2 separate regions of the Homo sapiens genome follow, and region 1 is linked to region 2. A link means that fine-mapping ties the variant in region 2 to the expression of a gene that starts in the linked region. Tissue or cell type: whole blood. Region 2 holds a variant in brackets; the other region holds the start of a gene. All regions are shown on one strand. Distances are between the middles of the regions.

Evidence for each region. PIP is the estimated chance that this variant, and not a neighbour inherited with it, causes the effect.
Region 1: it holds the start of PIK3R1, and the variant in region 2 is fine-mapped to the expression of PIK3R1 in whole blood (TOPMed, PIP above 0.99).

Annotation. Positions count from the first base shown.
Region 1 is chr5:68,210,089-68,220,460 of GRCh38, reverse strand. PIK3R1 (phosphoinositide-3-kinase regulatory subunit 1) reads right to left here and starts at 4,705. Exons shown (of 16, transcript NM_181523.3): 1 at 4,512-4,705. RefSeq lists silencers at 3,989-5,088, 5,309-5,528.
Region 2 is chr5:68,276,196-68,284,195 of GRCh38, reverse strand. It overlaps PIK3R1 (phosphoinositide-3-kinase regulatory subunit 1), which reads right to left. Exons shown (of 16, transcript NM_181523.3): 5 at 4,463-4,594; 6 at 3,467-3,668; 7 at 3,190-3,269. Among named protein-coding and RNA genes, the nearest start is that of PIK3R1, 64 kb to the right of the region's middle. The variant A/G (reference allele first, on the strand shown) is at 3,901.

The DNA of each region.
Region 1 (10,372 bases), 65 kb after region 2:
GGGTGACGTAGCTTCTGGGACCTGAGGGACAGACAGATCCTATCACCCAGAAAAGGCCATGAGGCTGACCATTCCGGTTCTCTGCATCATCACAATGAAGAGGACCTGAGGGGGCAGGAATGAGAGGACTGAAGGGGATGACTTCAAGTCTCTCTTCTTTTGAAAAAAAGATGCTATTCTGTAAACTTCTTGGCAAGGTTAGTATGAACACTGAGCTTCAGATTCAGGCAGCTGCCCCAGTCAGATTGTGCCTAAATATGTAACCTCAGGAAAGTTACTTAAACCTCTCTGTGGCACAGTTTTATCATCTGTGAGACAGCTATAAGCAAACCTACAGCCCACAGAGTCATTATGAGGATTAACAAAATGACATACATAAAGCACTTCGCTCCATACTTGATAATAGGAGCTTAGGATAATTAATGCCAACATAGTACTTACTATGTGCCAGGCACATAGTTCTCAGAGTTGTACATATATCAACTCATTTAACCATTACAATCACTCTAAGTACAACAATTATCTCTATTTTACAGATGAGAAAACAAGCAGATAAAAGTTAAATATTTTGCCTAAAGTTACATAGCTAGTAAATTGCAACTATTATATTACTATTATTTCTATTAGTATTGAATGTCACCTACTGCCATTTATACAATTCAGATTTAACAGAGGAACAAACATTTATGAGGGATTTTCTTCTGCATTGCCTCTTAACTCTGCAAACAGTTCTAAGTGAATCCTGAATCTAGCTAAAATAAAACTCCCGCTGTCTTAAACCCCTTTTGGAGTAAATAGATAAAGGCTGAGTGTGGACTTTGCCCATGTAGTTCTCTCCTTACCTGAGGTAGAGGACGGCTCTACAGAGGTCAGGACAAAGGAGGCCTGGGAGAGGCCAAGGGATGTGTACATGTGTGTGTGCATCCCCAGGATTTAGAGATGAGTAGCTGTGTCCTCATGGTACAGCCCTTGATCCTGGGGCAGAACCCCAGGCTGGGACACTGGGACATCCGGGGAGGAAGACAACAGGCAAGGAATGGCTGGTCCAGATGCCTTGGCTTTATTAACTCACTACACTCACTGGTGGAGCCTCCTCACACTGTGGCCAGACTCCTGTGACTTCAATACTCTCTTGGATGATCATTAACCTGACAACTATTTTGACTACAGGTGCCTGTGGATATGTATTTGATTTACTTTAAGGAAAACAATGCTAGCAGAATAAAATCTCCAAAGATGTTTCTACAGTAGACATTTTTTCCAATAACACTATACTACAATCACTCTAGCCTTTCAAATAAATAAACACCTAACACCTAGGGGATAAATAAAGGCCATACAGACAAGTTTATAAGTAACTATATAGTCTATTTTTTCAGCTCATGTGGCTTAATGTACATGAAATGGTCGTTAATTGCCACTCTTTTAAGCAAGTAACTCCATACAAGTATTGGCAGAATCATGGCAAGTAATCACATTAGGGCATTAGGGTGTACGTAAAGGAGGCATGGGAAAATGCAGTAAATGATATGAATACTTTGAAAATTAATTAAAACCTAGGTTTTGATAAAAAGCTGTGATATAATTTATATTCTGCTTTCTAAAGTAAAAACTAACTTGATAATTCCTTCCATTGATAACTAACTTTCTAGTCTTCCAGGGCTTCATTAAAATGCTTCATTCTCTTGCCTTCACTTGCAAACCCTGTGCCCTGCAAGAGGGAGAGCTGGAGGAGCTCATATGAAACATACAATATCTTTTGCATTGTGTATGCCTTGACGTGAGAGAATTCCAAAACCCAACACAAACATTATCTCAACTGGCTATATTCTACTTGAGCATAAAAATCAATTTTTTTTCAGCCTGCTCATTCACCATCTCTTTATTCAATAAAACATGTATTTTGCAAATCACAAAATGCAAACACAATAAAAGCTGAACTAGAATTGTTCCTATTTTAATGATCATGTGAACAATCTTTCAGAGTAGATGCCTTTTTACAATACTCCCCTGAACGACCAATATGTTGATTGAACATATCAATTTAGGTTGATATGTTCAATCAACATATCAACCTAAAAATTATATGACAGTCATGGAAAAATGTAAAGAAATGGCCAAAACTTTTAACAGTACAAAATTTGGGTTAGTTTGAGTAGGTTTGCATTTACAATTCAAAGTCCTTCAAAAATCACGTTAGGTGAAACTGACATTACCAAAAGATAAACGCATACCACCATCATCACTGTCTATAATCAAAATATGTATTCCTATAACTTATTGTTCCACTTCTGTTTCCCAGAACCAACTTTATTCTGTGAGGATTTCCTGCGCTTAGTATATTTAAACTCAAGAAATCGCTAAAGAAAAAACATTCAATAAATGGGAAACAAAATGCTTTTTACACTGACTATACAGCATCATGGATAGGAAGAGACTCACTGATATCATTATTTTTAAAAAGCAGATAAAACATCAAATAGCAGTGTGTACACTGCAGAGTTCTGTTATGCAACTAAGAACAGGTCCCAAGTCAAGATGAAAGTTAAAAGTAAATGCACATTACACTTTGCAAGCCAGTATCAGATACATTAAACTTTCTCCCAATCATAAAAATCTATCCACTTCTCTGGAAAAAGTAATATGATTATCTAGTACCTACCTGCATATAAAAGCTGAAGAGGCAAGCAGTGACAATACCCAGCAGTTCTGCAAGGCAGGGAGCCTCCTCCACTGGCCTTTCCAACTTAAACCTTAACTCTGAACCAACATTTCTTCCCAAACTTTAGCCGCAGGCACGCGCGCGCACACACACACACACACACACACACCCCCACACATTACTCTTATTTTCTTTATACTGGTCAAAAACACTTGCTTCCTAAAGTTTAATCAACTTTTGCACCTAAGAAAACTCTTATCTGCTTTCTTCTAAACGGTTTTTCAAGAACAGTGTAATCTGTCAAAAAGTTGTATAGCTAGTGAGTTGCTTTTTCTTCCTTTTTCAATGTTAAAAGATACTTGTGGCCTTCTGTGCAGAAGTCACCAAATTCCTAGTAATTCAAACTGTGACAATCTAATATTCTAATAACCTGCTTAAGAAATGAACCTGTCTGCCCACTCCAACCCTTCCTAGCTAATATCTAACCATCTTTAAGGTTGCCAAAACGTAACAGAACTAATGAAGCATTAAAATATAACTCCACATCAAGCCTTGACCAATAAGCTCTGTGAATATCCCTCCTGATTACTAAAACTTGAGCCTCATCACACCAAAATGACAATCTTATGTTGCATTCAAAACCCGGAACTGCTTTATCCATTGGTACTTCGCACTGGCTGACAAAGAGGAAAAGAAGAGAAAAAAGAAAAAAAACCTAAAATCATGAAGCCCCCAAATAAAGAGCAGACTCACACTCGGACACCAACAGCGCTGCAGCTCAAGGGATTAACGGTGGAAGTGAGACCTTTCCGATATTAATAGCGCCCCGGGAAACAGAAGAATTCCCCCAAACCCAGTTGACACACATTCTGCATTCAACACGTAACAGCCATTCTGCATATATCCTTGCATTTCAGGCTCCAATTCTGGTTATCAAAGTGTATTTCTGTACAGGAGTGCCTGGCCAGAGGTTTTCTGTTCTCTTTGTCTTGTGATCTGAGGGGCAGTTTCTGAGCTTAGGTTAGAGCTGTGGTTTCCAGAGAATTGCCCACGATATTTTAGCTCCGGGTTGCAGGCTCCCTGGCTCTCCCCAGCCGGCTCCATATTGCTGGGCAGGTCCCTCCCGCCTCGCCCCACGTTCCAAAAGCTGGATTTCCGGGCGGTTCCAAGACCCCACTAAATATGCCTCCAACAACCTGCCCAAGCTTGGCTGGCAATAAACGCTGAGTTAGGGCCCCAGCGACCAACCGCCCCGAGGCGCACTTCCCCCACCCCGGAAGAGGAGGGCGGCAAACTTCGGAAGGCGGGGGTTAGGGGACGAGCTCCGGGGACCACCGCCGCCTCGCCCGCCCCGGGAAGGGCCCGGGCAGCGACCCTGGCTGCAGCTGGAGGGCCACGGGGGAAGGGAGCGCTCCTTCCCGCAACACGAAGGCAGCGGCCAGGGCGCTCTCCTCCGGTGAGGGGCCCCGGAAAACTGCAGCAAGGCGACAGCGGGGACCCTCCGAAGTGTGCGGTGACGGAGGGTGGGAGGAAGCCCGAGCTCGTCGGCAACTCCGGGGGCAAATGCGACCGGCGGCGTGCAGGACCAGCTCGCAGGAGGACGGGGGAAACGGGAGTCAGGATGGCGGGGATCTCACAGGACGCCGGCCGCGCGCGGGGGTAGTGCTGCCCGGCGGCCAGGAGATGCCGGAGGCGGGGAGGGCCGGTGGCCAGCCCGCTTCCCCCCGGCGGGGCTCTGCAGAAGGAGAAGCCGCTGCCAGTGACAGGAAGAGAGTCGCGGCAGCCGTGCACACATGCACCGCCTCCCCCGCCCGAGCACACACACCCGGGGCTGCTGCTGCCTACCTACCCCGCCCGCCGGCTTCCTTCCTCTGCGGGGCCCGCGCTGCAGCGGTGGCCTCCTGCCCGCTCGGTTCCGACCGGCCTCCAGCCCGGCTGCGACCCGCCGGCCGTGCCCGATCCGTGCTTGCCGTCTCCGACAGCTAGCCTGCCGCCCTCGCCGCTGCCGCTGCTTCCTCCAACTCCGCTCCAGCTGCTGGCGACTCCTCTCCGTGCGCCCGCAGCTCCAGCGCCCGGCGCTAGCCCCGCCTCCGGCCCGGCCCCGCGCGCCCCGCCCCCGAGCCCACACCAACCAGAGCCCGCGGCTCCGCCCCTTTCCGTCCGCACGGCTCGGGCCTCCGAGCCGGCGGCTGGCAGTGGGGGAGCGAGCTCAGGCCTGGCGGACCCTTCCTGCCACCGCCCTCGCCTTCCGCCCCCCAGCCGCGGGGATGCCCCGGGCGGCCGTGCCGCGCGCTGCCTCCGCTGCGGAGTGCTCTGGCTCTACACGTCCCGGGCCCGCCCGGCTGCTGGGCGTCTCCCAGCGCAGAGGCGGAGGGGTTCGGGGAGGTCGAAGACAAGTTCAGACCTCCCTGGAGGCTGGCTGCGTCTCTAATCCGAGTGTCTTTCAGCCAACCCCAGGCTTTTTCGAGCCCCTAGCGCCCCAGCAGAGTGGCTGGGGTGGGGAGGACTCGGATTCCAGAGCTCGCCAAAGCGGAGAGGCCCTGCAATTCCTGGTCTCGCCAGCACTGCCTTCCGAGTGGGCGGAAAACCCGCGGCACCCGCCTGGCGCTCCGGGGGTGAAGGAGGGGTGAAAGGGTGAACCGGAGGGACGGGCGCCCGCAGCCTGCCGCTGGCTAACTCCGGCAGCCTGGCACCGCCGCCTCCGGGAGCCAGGCGGACCCGCGAGAAGGGAAGAGAGTTTTCTGAGGGCGTACGCTGGCTGATGGCTTCTAGTCCTGAGATGACAGAGCAAATGGAGGTCACTCAGGCAGACCACGGGCCCCTCGGCGTTCGCGGAGTCGGGGGCGGGGTTGGCGGGGGGTGGGGTTGGCGCGGGCGGGGGGGGCGGGGAAGCGCAGGTGAATTACATTGTCTCTTAAAGGTGTTAGTTTTGAAATGCATATTCTTCAAGTAATAATTACCTAAGTTGCTCCAGAAAAATTTGATGTTGGTTCAAACCTTCCACTGATGGTAAGATGGAATGCCAGCACCACGTGTGCCACTCTTTCATATTAAAACATGTGAGAATCTGCTTCCTAAAAGCTCTTTCCAGATTCTCCTTTCTGCAGCTTAAAGCCCTGCACCCGCCCACCCTGTTTGCCTAAAGCCCTTTTATAGTTCCCTCCCAGTTTCCTTGCAAGAAAACTCTTAAAAACAAACACACAAAACCTAAGCACTTGGCCTCTGTAAAACGTTGAATTTGGTGGTTTATTCTTGTGGACGTTGGAAGTAGAGGGAAGAACGTCCTAAAATTCATCGCTTATCCTTAAAAAATATCATTTTTAAAGGTGACTCACCTAACAGAAAAGTAAGCTCCACTTTAGGCTATTCAGACACTGGTGTTTCTATTATTCCAAGATGTCTCTTGCAGAGGCGACACAAAAACAGGCAGCTACCCACATCATGTTTAAGAATACACTTTATCTGAAAGCAAATAGGAAATTTACCAAGGTACCTTCTTCACACCTACTGTGTGAAATGAAGGACTTCATGCATTCTCTGTCTGTAAATGGAATGATATACCTTGCCTTGCAGTAGAATTACTTTGATCCAATCCAATAAGCTGAGATGAAACTGCTGTGACCTTCCCAGTATTTCCTTTAGGTTCCGCTCTGAACAAACTCTAACAGTGAAAACCTTGCTAGTTATCTCCTTCTTCTGGAGATAGCTGGAAAGAGTCTTATGCACTATTGCAGTGGGATTCTGTTCACCCGCAAACCTAAAAACAATAAAATTCCCAAATGCACCTCCTCATTTAGACACAGTCTTTAGTAATTTATTTCCAGCATACATTGTATTTCCTTTACGTTTTTTCATCATAAAGAGTGTCCCAAGGGAAGAAAATAAGGCTCTCTTTTCATATACTAAATAAATTCAGTATTTCATTTGTTTTAAACTGATGATATCTCCCCATATCACTAGTATTAGCATTTTTATTTATTTTCACCTTCAATTGATTTCTATGAAACAAAAGCAAAGGCAACAAAACAGCAGTATTCAAGCTTTTTTAAAAATAATCTTTTTATTTAATAAAATCTAGTCTAGAATCCCCAAATACAACTATAAGATAAGAAGTCATGTAACAAGACCAAGAGGCCCATTGCACCACCTCCCTTCCTTCTGTCTAGAACCTCTGGATCCTTGGACTAGAAACATCTGGATCTCCTGAGAATTTGTTGGAAATTCAAATTGTCCTCACTGAATCAGGAATGCTGAGGGTGGAGCCTAGCAATCTGTATTTTAATAAGCTCTCCAAGTGATCTGATGCATGCCCTATGGTTTCAGAACTATTACTCTAAGGCTTCTGGAAACACTGATTGAAAACCTCTGCAATAAAATACTCACATTAAGTACCCAAACACCATGGTTCAATCAGTAATGGCCAAACTGTTGGCCAGCAGGTAGTGACACCAGCAAGGAGCTCGAAATAGCAGAAGATGTACAATTTGCAACGAAAGGGGTGATACAGGGGTGTCACATACAAGGCATAAGAAGTCAAGGACCCCCCAATGTCAAGAAAGGCTGAGTAGCTATAGGCTGAGAAAGAATTCTCCCCAAAGTATGGTAGGATACTCTCATTTGGCATCATCATTCCAGCTACATCAATATTGTGAGTGCTAGAATTAGCTTTCATTAGACTTGAAACCTAAGAATGTATCTTAGGGTTCAAAGCCAATGTGAAATACAAATGGCTTAGACCTTTACTTCTCAAGTGAGGCCCATAGACCAGCAGCTTTGGCACTATGTAAGAGCTTGTTAGAAAGGCAGAATCCCAGGCCCTATCCCAGGCATACTTAATCAAAATCTGCATTTTAACAAGATTATCAGGTGATTCCTATGCAAGTTAAACTTTGAGAAGCCCTATCTTAGACAGGGGTTCTCAGTTTTCTCTACACATTGCAAATACCTGAGGAGCTTATAAAAATCTCAATACCTGGTCTGCACCCCAGATGGATTACATCAAAATCTCTGGGGTGAAATGCAGGCATTAGTAACTTTTCAAGCTCCTCACATTATTCCAGTGGGAAGCCAGATTTTAGGAACCACTGCTTTGGAGGAGCCACTTAAGAAAGGCGCTATTAGGAAAGCCCTCTGGGTACAGTAGAGTACAAATGGCTGGTCTTAAAGCGGGCAGCTGAACTAGAGTTTAGCTAATTGTTGCCGCACAGGAATGTGAGCCCAAATTTTCCAATTTTCCTAGAGAAGCTGAAAATACAGATTTTTATGGACTATTTTCCAATTATTGAATGCTGGCAATGAATTCAACCTTTTTTAGAAATATAGGTTAGGCCACATTCGTGTGATTTTTTTGAAATGTGGGTTAGGTTAGTGTGATGTTATGATGCTGCACATCATAAAATAAAGTGGGAAAAAAAAATCACCCAAGAAGAGTACTGGCTTCTTGGAATGTAAGCCTCATGATCTAAAGAGTCAAGTGTTTTAAATGTTCTGTTCTCTAACAGAACCAAACACTGTAGGCATTCAATGACTGGGAATTGGTAATGGGTGAGATATCAATGCTTGCAACCCTGGGGCAAAACACTATGGTCTTCTATGCAATATTTTTATTTTCTCTTTCTCCTGCCTGCTAACTGATGTGTTGGGGGTGGGAAAGTAGAATGAATCTTTGCATTACTTAGATTAAAATCTGCACCTATTGTGAGTTATGCAGGTTAATTACATATTAAGAGAAACATGAAAAAATTATTGACTGGAATACTTACTACCTGATATGGTTTGGCTGTGTCCCCACCCAAATCTCATCTTGAGTTGTAGCTCCTATAATGCCTTCATGTTGTGAGAGAAGCCTGGTGGGAGATCAGTGAATCATGAGGGCAGTTTCCCCCATACTGTTCTCATGGTAGTGAGTAAGTGTCACAAGATCTGATGGTTTTATAAAGGGTTTCCCCTTTCACTTGGCGCTCATTCTCTCTTTGCCTGCCACCGTGTAAGACGTGCCTTTCTCCTTCTGCCATGATTGTGAGGCCTCCCCAGCCACATGGAACTCTAAGTCCATTACACATCTTTTCCTTTATAAATTACCCAGTCTCAGGTATGTCTTTATCAGCAGCATGAAAACAGACTCATACAGTAAATTATTACAGCAGCAGTGGGGTGCTGCTGTAAAGATACCTGAAAATGTGGAAGTGACTTTGAAACTGGGTAACAGGCAGAGGTTGGAACAGCTTGGAGGGCTCAGAGGAAAACAGGAAAATGTGGGAAAGTTTGGAACTTTCTAGAGACTTGTTGAATGGCTTTGACAAAAATACTGATAGTGATATTAACAATGAGGTCCAGGTTGAGGTGGTCTCAGATATAGATAAGGAACTTGAGAACTAGAGTAAAGATGACTCTTGCTATGTTTTAGCAAAGAGATTGGTGGCATTTTGGCCCACCCTAGAGATTTGTGGAACTTCAAATTTGAGGGGGAAGATTTAGGGTACCTGGCAGAAGAAATGTTTAAGCAGCAAACCATTCAAGAGGTGACTTGGGTGCTGTTAAAAGCATTCAGTTTTAAAAGGGAAACACATCATAAAAGTTCAGAAATTTTGCAACCTGATGTGATAGAAAGGAAAAACCCATTTTCAGAGGAGACATTCAAGCTGGCTGCAGAAATTTGCATAAGTAACAAGGCACTAAATGTTAATCACCAAGATAATGGGGAAAATGTCTCTAGGGCTTGCCAGAGACCTTTTCCACAGCTGCTCCAACCGTGGCTAAATGGGGCCAAGGTACAGCTTGGGCTGTGGCTTCAGAGGGTGCAAGCCCTAAGCCATGGCAACTTCCACATGGTTGGGCCTGTGGGTGCAGAGAAGTCAAGAATTGAGGTTTGGAAACCTCTGCCCGGATTTCAGAGGATGTATGGAAAGGCCTGGATGTCAAGGCAGAAGTTTGCTGCAGGGGTGGGGCCCTCATGAAGGACCTCTGCTAAGGCAGTACAGAAGGGAAATGTGGGGTTGGAGTCCTCACACAGAGTTCCTACTGGGGCACCACCTAGTGGAGCTGTGAGAAGAGGGCCACTGTCCTCCAGACCCCAGAATGGTAGATCCACCGACAGCTTGCACCGTGCACCTGGAAAAGCCACAGACACTGAATGCCAGCCCATGAAATCAGCCGAGAGTGAGACTGTACCCTGCAAAGCCACAAGGGTGGAGCTACCCAAGACCATGGGAGCCCACCTCTTATATCGGCATGACCTGTATGTGAGACACGGAGTCAAAGGAGATCATTTTGGAGCTTTAAGATTTGACTGCCCTGGTGGATTTCAGACTTGCGTGGGGCCTTTAGCTCCTTTGCTTTGACCAATTTCTCCCATTTGGTATGGGTGTATTTATCCAATGCCTGTACTTCCATTGTAATCTAGGAAGTAACTAACTTACTTTTGATTTTACAGGCTTATAGGCAGAAGGGACTGGCCTTCTTTCAGGTGAGTCTTTGGACTGTGGACTTTTGAGTTAATACTGAAATGAATTGAGACTTTGGGGGACTGTTGGGAAGGCACTGTTGGTTTTGAAATGTGAGGACATAAGATTTGGGAAGGGCCAGGGGTTGAATGATATGGTTTGGCTGTGTCCCCACCCAAATCTCATTTTGAATTATAGCTCCCATAATTCCCACATGTTGTGGGAGGGACGCAGTGGGAGATAATTACATCACGGGGGTGGTTTCCCC
Region 2 (8,000 bases):
TGATGCGATAGATAGCAGAGAAATTATCAGTTCATTAAATCTCATACCAACCCCAGGAGAGAGGCATTAACCCAATTCCACAGTCTGGAAAACAATTTGGAAAAGCTGAGTTACTCGAGAGAGTTGAGATTCCAATCCAGATCTATTTGAGTCAGAAGCCCACTTTTTTTTCCACTGCACAGCTCATGGAGTGATTTGGAGCCTTATCCTGAAAAGTATAAACATTGCCCTGACTTTGTTTACTATATGTGACCCATGGGGGCTAATTTCACATATTTTTAGTTTATTACATGCTGGAAACTTCAGAGGAGTTTTTGATTGGACACTAAAAGCAGCCTCATTGCTCACGAAGTTTCCAAAAATCCAGGCAGCAGGGCATGGCAGATAGAATGGGCTGGAGTGTAGGAGGCGGCTCCTGGGCAGACCCGGTTTGGGCCCATACTGGCCGGGTAGCACAGAGCGAACCTCTATCTGTGGGCCTCGGTTTCCTCATGTCCAAATTGGTAAAGCTGGACAATGCTTTCAACTCTAAAATGATGTTTTTTGTGATACTATCACTTAAAATATGTACTGCTTTTGTAAAATACCAAGCCATTATTTTGTACTGTGTAATTTATTTTGAATAAGTCTTTAAACTCCATGCATCAAAATGCTATTTCTCCTTTGCCTATTCAAATTGTACCTATTCTTCAAGGCACATTTCAAGCCCTATTTCTTCTATGAGCCTTTTCTGTCTACTCCATTACCCTAGAAAGTCACCAGCTGCATTTCTAAAGTTCTTTTTGTACTTAGAGTATGTGTACTCCCACCTAGCATTTAATTAGATACTATGTGCTAATGGCTCTTATTTGAACTGATACTTTGCCTCAAACATCATAAGCTTTGTCATTTCAAGTTCTATCTGGTAATAATTAGAAATGCTGTCTATCTGCCCTATAACAGAGTCTTGCTTTTGTCTCCCTTAAACATCATTCAGGTACTCATTTGTGTTCACAACAATGTTACTGTAAATGGCCATTCGCTGGAGATGTAAGGTGCTGTGCTTTCAAAGTTCTGTCTGGTACTAGCACATGCTGTGGCAATGCTGAAGGACTCTAAGAAATTATTGCATTTTTTAAACCAGGCCTAAGAATCATTTCTTCAACCCAGGCTGCCATAGCAGTCATTTGCACTGGAGCCATTCCTGAATACGAAGATGTTCTGGATGGGGACGTTTTGTTCCTGGAGTGGGCAGTACAATGTATGCACACATGAGAGACACTAAAACAGCCATTTAATTCCAAAGGTCCTATACAAATCACACAAACTTCCTGGGAAAACGGCTCAAACTAGAGTTTAAAACCGACTTGGATTTAATTTTTTTTAAGAGGCCACATAAATACTGGGATGATCTAGCAAATGTTCAAGGCTTTGTCATCCTTTAGCAGAGCTGATGGAACTAATCCTCCTTTGAAACAGGCGCACCAATTGCTCAGCAGAGAAATGTAGGGTCCTTTGACATATCAAACAGCTTTCCGGGTGGCATTATGAAAATAGTGCAGATACCCGTTTTTACTTTGGTGGAATTAGGATGAAACTAACAAAGGCGTTTAACTAGTTTACACCAGTCAGGCTAATCAAACTCTACCACTGATTCTGCTATACCTTGTGTAGTAGAAATTCTCCAAAATTCCATGTGATAAATTCATTTGTGGGTATCTGTCAAACCCTGTCTGGCTTTGGCTTCCATGTGTCTCCTCTCTCTAGAGGAGTGGCCACTGAAAAGATCAGGACTACCCACTAGCCCTTCACTGAGAGCAGGGTCCAGCTCTACCTAGTCTCTAACATAAACCTCAACTTAAGTGCCATGTGCCACACCCCTACCCCAATTCTTTTCCACTAAGTCCAAAGGCAGCCTCTGAACACCAGCACAGAGCTCCCAAATCCATTCACAGTGACCTGTGTACTCACACGAGATGAAGCCTTTTGGCCAACCCCTGGACTGAAGTCCTAGTCCCTACCTGTTGACAGTCTTCTTTGACGTAGTTTACCTAGAATTCTGGGCACCCCTGTTAAAACATTCTGCTTGCTGTGATTTGGAACATCCCATGCTTGCCTTATCTACTATACCGGATACCTCTCTCTCACCTTTGGTACATTTTGGGCCTGTCCACATAAACCTTTCCCAATACCCGCATCTTCAGTGTTTACCTACCCTATCCTCTATCCTACCTGCTGCAGGTGGGTTTTGAGTCTAGGCCCTGGCCTCTCTTAGGCTGCCCCATCCAGATGCAAGTAACCAAGCCTGGCTGTGCAATACCCAATTAAGAAAAAGCACAACTTAACTCTCCATTGCATGAAGATGAAACTGAGTCCCCATGCCTGCTCATACAGAGATAAATATGGTAATCTGCATATATTACCTATAATAAATATATTCATGGAGTTTCATTTTAAGTTCCAGGCATAAATTAAGACTACAAGCAACACCTTTTACTGGTCCTGAAACTTCACACGTATAGTACCCTAATTACTATTCTAAATGACCAGTGTCGATTAGCTAACTTTTAACTGGTATATAGCAAAATGAGGTTGTTTAGACTTTCCACGGTAGAAGAAAAATACATCAGTTTAAATTAAATGCATTGCTAACATGGTCTACATTTCCTGCTTTGTTAAATGGCTAACTGAACAGCAGCCTGCTTTCAAAGAAGTGTCTGGCTTGCTCGAACTTGCTGCAGGGAACACTGGTTTCATACTGCTTGCATTATTGAAAATGTTTATTTTGACAGGCATTTCTCAGCATACCCACTTCCAAAAAACACATTCTAAAATACTTTAAATTATATAGTAATTATAAATCCCCTACTTTGTAAGTATTAGAAAGAAAAACAAAAATGTCAACAACTAAAATGAACTCCATAAATCTCTTCAACAACCTGAAGCATAAATGTTGAAGGGTACAGGGAACTCTCCAAACTCTCACCTAAAACCAAGATAATTTAAAATCCACAAATGTTGAAACTCGGATAATAATTAACATATACACTACCACTCAGCTATTTTTTCTTTAAATCACAAGGTAACATATTACTACCAACTGTAATTCCATAAGAAGCTGTGTTACTTCAAAGGAGGTTTATAGCCATCATTTTTTAAGGCTCTAAAAAATGAACAATGAGAGAATGTTAAATGCTCAAAAAGCATTACCTGGTGCAGGCTGTCGTTCATTCCATTCAGTTGAGATTAAAATTTCTATAACTTTTATGAGGTTTTCAGTATTATCAGAGCTGTAAGAAAGAGAGTTTATTAGAAACCTTTTCCCTAAAAGCAAACTCATTTTCATTTATATACACTCAAGTGAATGTGTGTGATAGCATCTGCACATGCATCTCTGGAGTAGTATATTCAGAATACATTTTCATGACCAATCCATTTAGGACTACCCTCATCACCCCAAAATACATGTTTGTCTCCTTTCACTTACCTGGCTGCTGAGAATCTGAAAAGCATAGGGCTGAAAATTTCAGAGAGTACTCTTGCATTCAACAGATTTTTGCTGGAGGTTTGAGAGAGCTTGAAGAAATGTTTTAACAAATACTGAAGCGTAAGCCAATACTGATGAGGTATGCTAGGCGACCTAATAAGCTTCTTCAATAGCTGAATATATTCTTCGGAGCTTTGTACTTCTACAAGTTTAAAAAAAAAAAAAAAGAGAAATGAGTAAGCGACTACTTCCAGGTATCAGTGAATAAACACCTAGAAAAGTTCTGCTCTTTCTTCAAGCTATAGGAGTCATTTAAAAAGTTGTTGGGAGAAGCACACAGTACATTTGTCCTTCTCATTAGAAAACGCATTATGAGAAAGTAGAAATCTCAGGTCAAATGGAAATGCAAAAAGCTCAGTGTGTAAAGAAACCAC[A/G]AGCTGTTCAGGGTGTGCTGGCAGCAACTTACCCAGTATTGAGCAGCTTCAAGTGTGATTGGCTAACTCAGAGGAGCATCAGATAAGTATCACAGGTTTTAACTTTGAAGGTTACGAACCAGTTTCCTGTCCCCAAAGCACTTAACTGAACCTTATCTCCTAAAACTGAGAGCCATCTTCCCTCAACACATTCTGTTATGGCCACTCAGGAAAGATGACAAGAACATCCCCCATCACTGGATTCTAGTCCCAGTTCCTTGAATCTGACACTAGTACTTGGAAGACCGTGTCCTTCATTGACGTACAAACTTTGTTAAGACCAATAGGTTAACAATGAGCCATTTCTGATTCTGACATGCAGACGGGCTTCCCAAGCAAATGAGAATCTGGGTCTTCTCTTGGATGCTTGGGTGGAGGAGGAAATTTGAGGTGGTATTGTTGGGGGAGGGACAGGTTATTACTACTATTTTCTAACCACTATTTCTATATATGCAAGACATATACAAGCACCTCTACATCTCCATGTATGTTCAATGAGGTTCCCAGAAGAGAAAAAACAAACCTGGAGCTAAAGAAATCATTTCACTGTAAACGGCTGCTGGAATGACAGGATTTGGTAAGTCCAGGAGATAGCGTTTGAAAGCGTCAGCCAAAACGTGCACATCGATCATTTCCAAGTCCACGGAGGGTGTATCTAGGAAACAATTTAAGAAATATTTCAGACATTTATTTTATAGAATACATCAGTTGGGCTAATTTTCTGAACAATTTGACTCACATGTGACAAAAAAAAAAAAAAATAAGGAAGCAATATGAGGATAAATACAAGACACAAAGTATTCGTTAGCCGTACTTCTTGTAGGGGTTGCTCCGGGCATTTGGGGTAGAACAATTTTTCCTGTGGAGGTCTCTCTGACATATTGCAAGCACTTAGGATGCCTGACCCCCTGCCCATGATGCCAGTAGCAGACCTCCACACTTTGGGGCAACAAAAAATAATGCCTTTGTTATGGGCTGAATTGGGCTGCATCTTCAGTGGTTACCTACCCCATCCTCTGTCCCACCCCTCTAAGCCCAAACTCCTAATGCCTCAGAAAGTGACTGCATGTAAGTTAAAATGAGGCCATTAGAGTGGACTCTAATCCAATGTAACTGATATCCTTCTAGGAGGGGAAATGAGGACACAGAGAGAGACACACTAGGGATGCACAGGCACAGAGGAGAAACGCTGTGAGGATGCAGTGAGCAGGTGACCATCTACAAGCCAAGGACAGAAGCCTCAGGGGAAACCAAACATGCTTTTTTCTCGGACTTCTAGCCTCCAGAACCACGAGAAGTAAGTTTCTGCTTTTTGAGATGGAGTCTCACTCTGTAGCCAAGGCTGGAGTGCATCTCTGGTGTGATCTCGGCTCACTGCAACCTTCACCTCCCGGGTTCAAGCGATTCTCCTGCCTCAGCCTCCTGAGTAGGTGGGATTACAGGTGTGTACCACCACGCCTGGCTAATTTTTGTATTTTTAGTAGAGACAGGGTTTCATCATGTTGGTCAGGCTGGTCTCAAACTCCTGACCTCGTGATCCACCCGCCTCAGCCTCCCAAAGTGCTGGGATTACAGGTGTGAGCCACTGTGCCTGGCCAAGTTTCTGCGTTTTAAGCCACGCAGTCTGTGGTAACTTGTTATAACTGCCTGAGCAAACGAATACAGAACCCAAACATTTCCTAACATCCTCTGAGGGTGGTTCTGCCCTGACTGAAAAGGGTTCTAACTAGGAATGGTTAGTCATATAGTAAATGTTTCCTAAAACCTCAACAGGAAAAATTTAAAAATGCATATTCCCAGATTTCCTAAGACTTGAGTTGATATGTCTCAGAATTCATGTAAATGTCACCAACAGAGTGATGGATTCAACAGTAAGATACTACAGACTTTTAGCAACCAATCTCAAGAATATCCATGAAAATAATTTGAACATTTTTAGAATGTTTCTCCCTAATTCTGTCTGAGTATTACTAATCTAACCTGTGGATATCAGACAATCTCAGAAAATAAGATGAGCATACCTGTCCAGTAAATCCCTCAGCTGGGAAACAGGTCAAGCAATCCAATAATGGGGGTAAAACTAATCAATACCACCCTCCAGGCACTCACTACGCATGGCACTCTAAGTACTTGGGTTGGAAAAAGACACAATGCCCAGCAGAAGAAAGGGATGCTAGAAACAAAGATCTGGGGGCAGGGGTGACCATGGGCCTCTAGAAAAGGAGAGGACTTTGGCTGCTGCTGAAGGATGTACACTAGCAATGCGAAGGATAACTTGAGGAAAGTAATCTGGGGACTTGTGTACTCAGTGGAGCAAAGGTGGGCTGATGGGCAAGATACTACGTTTGTAACAGCTTTACTAATGACAGTGTTAAGAATAAATTGGAAGGGAGTGCTGCTAGAAGTAAAACTACCAGATTTAGTTCTCTGAATCAAGGTGATGGGGGTCTGAATTCTAATGCAGTTAGAAATGTACAAAATATTATCGAGACCTCATATAACTCGGTGATTGACTGCATTGGGCTGTGGCCTAGGAGAGAATGAGGAAGTATGAAAGTTTACTGCAAAGTGTTTGAGTATAAATGAGTGGGAGAAGGTAGTATCCTAGATAACCTTGAATGGAATATGACAGTACAAATCATTCTAGGTTGAGCCTAAGACTACAAAAATTCCTTGGACATATCATCATAAACCAAACTTGCCCCACTAGGTAGGCCGACGTTCCGAAAGTGAGTCACACAACCACACAGCTCTAAGAAAAGTAGGTCTGGAATAGGATATGGATAGGTCAACTTGAGGAAAAGAATTATTAAATTTAAAAGGTGAAGAGGCGAAGTGTTAAATCACTTAAATGTCCTACAAACAACCAACCAGAGACATATCACATGTTTAACAAGTGTGGGAGGGGCAATACCACTGTAGTAGATCCTCTGCATAAAGGATCTACGTTGAAGGTAATGCAATTGTGAGCATAATTAAATACTGTCAAATAAAATTGTGTGTGTGCTGCTATAGGAATTCTCTATGGTCACCACTCTTGGCCGTGCTTCTGGTTTCCCATACACTTTGCCCCGCATGTTTCATCTAATGTCTCTCTGCCCGGAAAATTAATATTACCGAATTTGCTTATCCTAAAATATGTGATAAAACATTTGGTGATGCAGTATAAACGTTAAGATAATAAATATGCACACATCCCTCCCTCAGGCAGGGTTTCCCTCTGTGCTTCTGCAGTGCTAATGAGCCACCCCTCTAACAAGACACTTCCCAAGGAGTATAATCATAGTGTGGGATTATGTGTTTCCCTACTAGACCGAGGTACGTCAAGGGCAGGGACTGTGGCTGTCACCTGCTCTTCTGGCATCCCTCAGTGTCCAGCACATACAACGTGTTAAATGTTTGTGGATTGAACTAGAAGGCTCAATCCACAAGTGAAGTTAATTCATCAAAGCCCTTTTCCAACACATGAGGTATATCAAAAGAACTTTCATAGTATATGAATAAAATTATCCTATGCAGGTCTTTGGGTAACCTTACCTTATGTCAAATTCTACTAGAGCTAGTGACAAAGTCTGTTCTATTTATCTGACTTCTGCTCTCTAAGAATCCTTTTCTGCATTGAAACTGGCCTAACGTGCTCTTCCATTAGCTATTCCTACCTGTCATGCGATGACTTTTGAAGAGCTACATAATCTTTAGGTCTGGGTTGGAGGTGTTTGCATTCTCTCCTACCTCACTTTTCACTGAGTCTACTCATGACAGGTACCCAGTAAACTCTCCAACCCTTCACTCCTCCCTCCCTCCCCCTGGAATGGAGTCTCCTCTTCCTTAGGTCTCTCCCTAGGTTAGTGGTTCCCAGTGGGAGTGGGATCCTGCCCTCTGCCATGAGCCATCTGGCAATGTCTGGAGACATTTCTGATTGTCACAACTGGGGGAGAATGCTGCTGGCACCTCATGGGTAGAGGTTAGGGATGTGGCTAAGCTTCCCACAATGCACGGGACAAGCTCCCACTCTTCCAGCAAAGAATTATCCAGCCTAAAATGTCAATAGTACCAAGGCT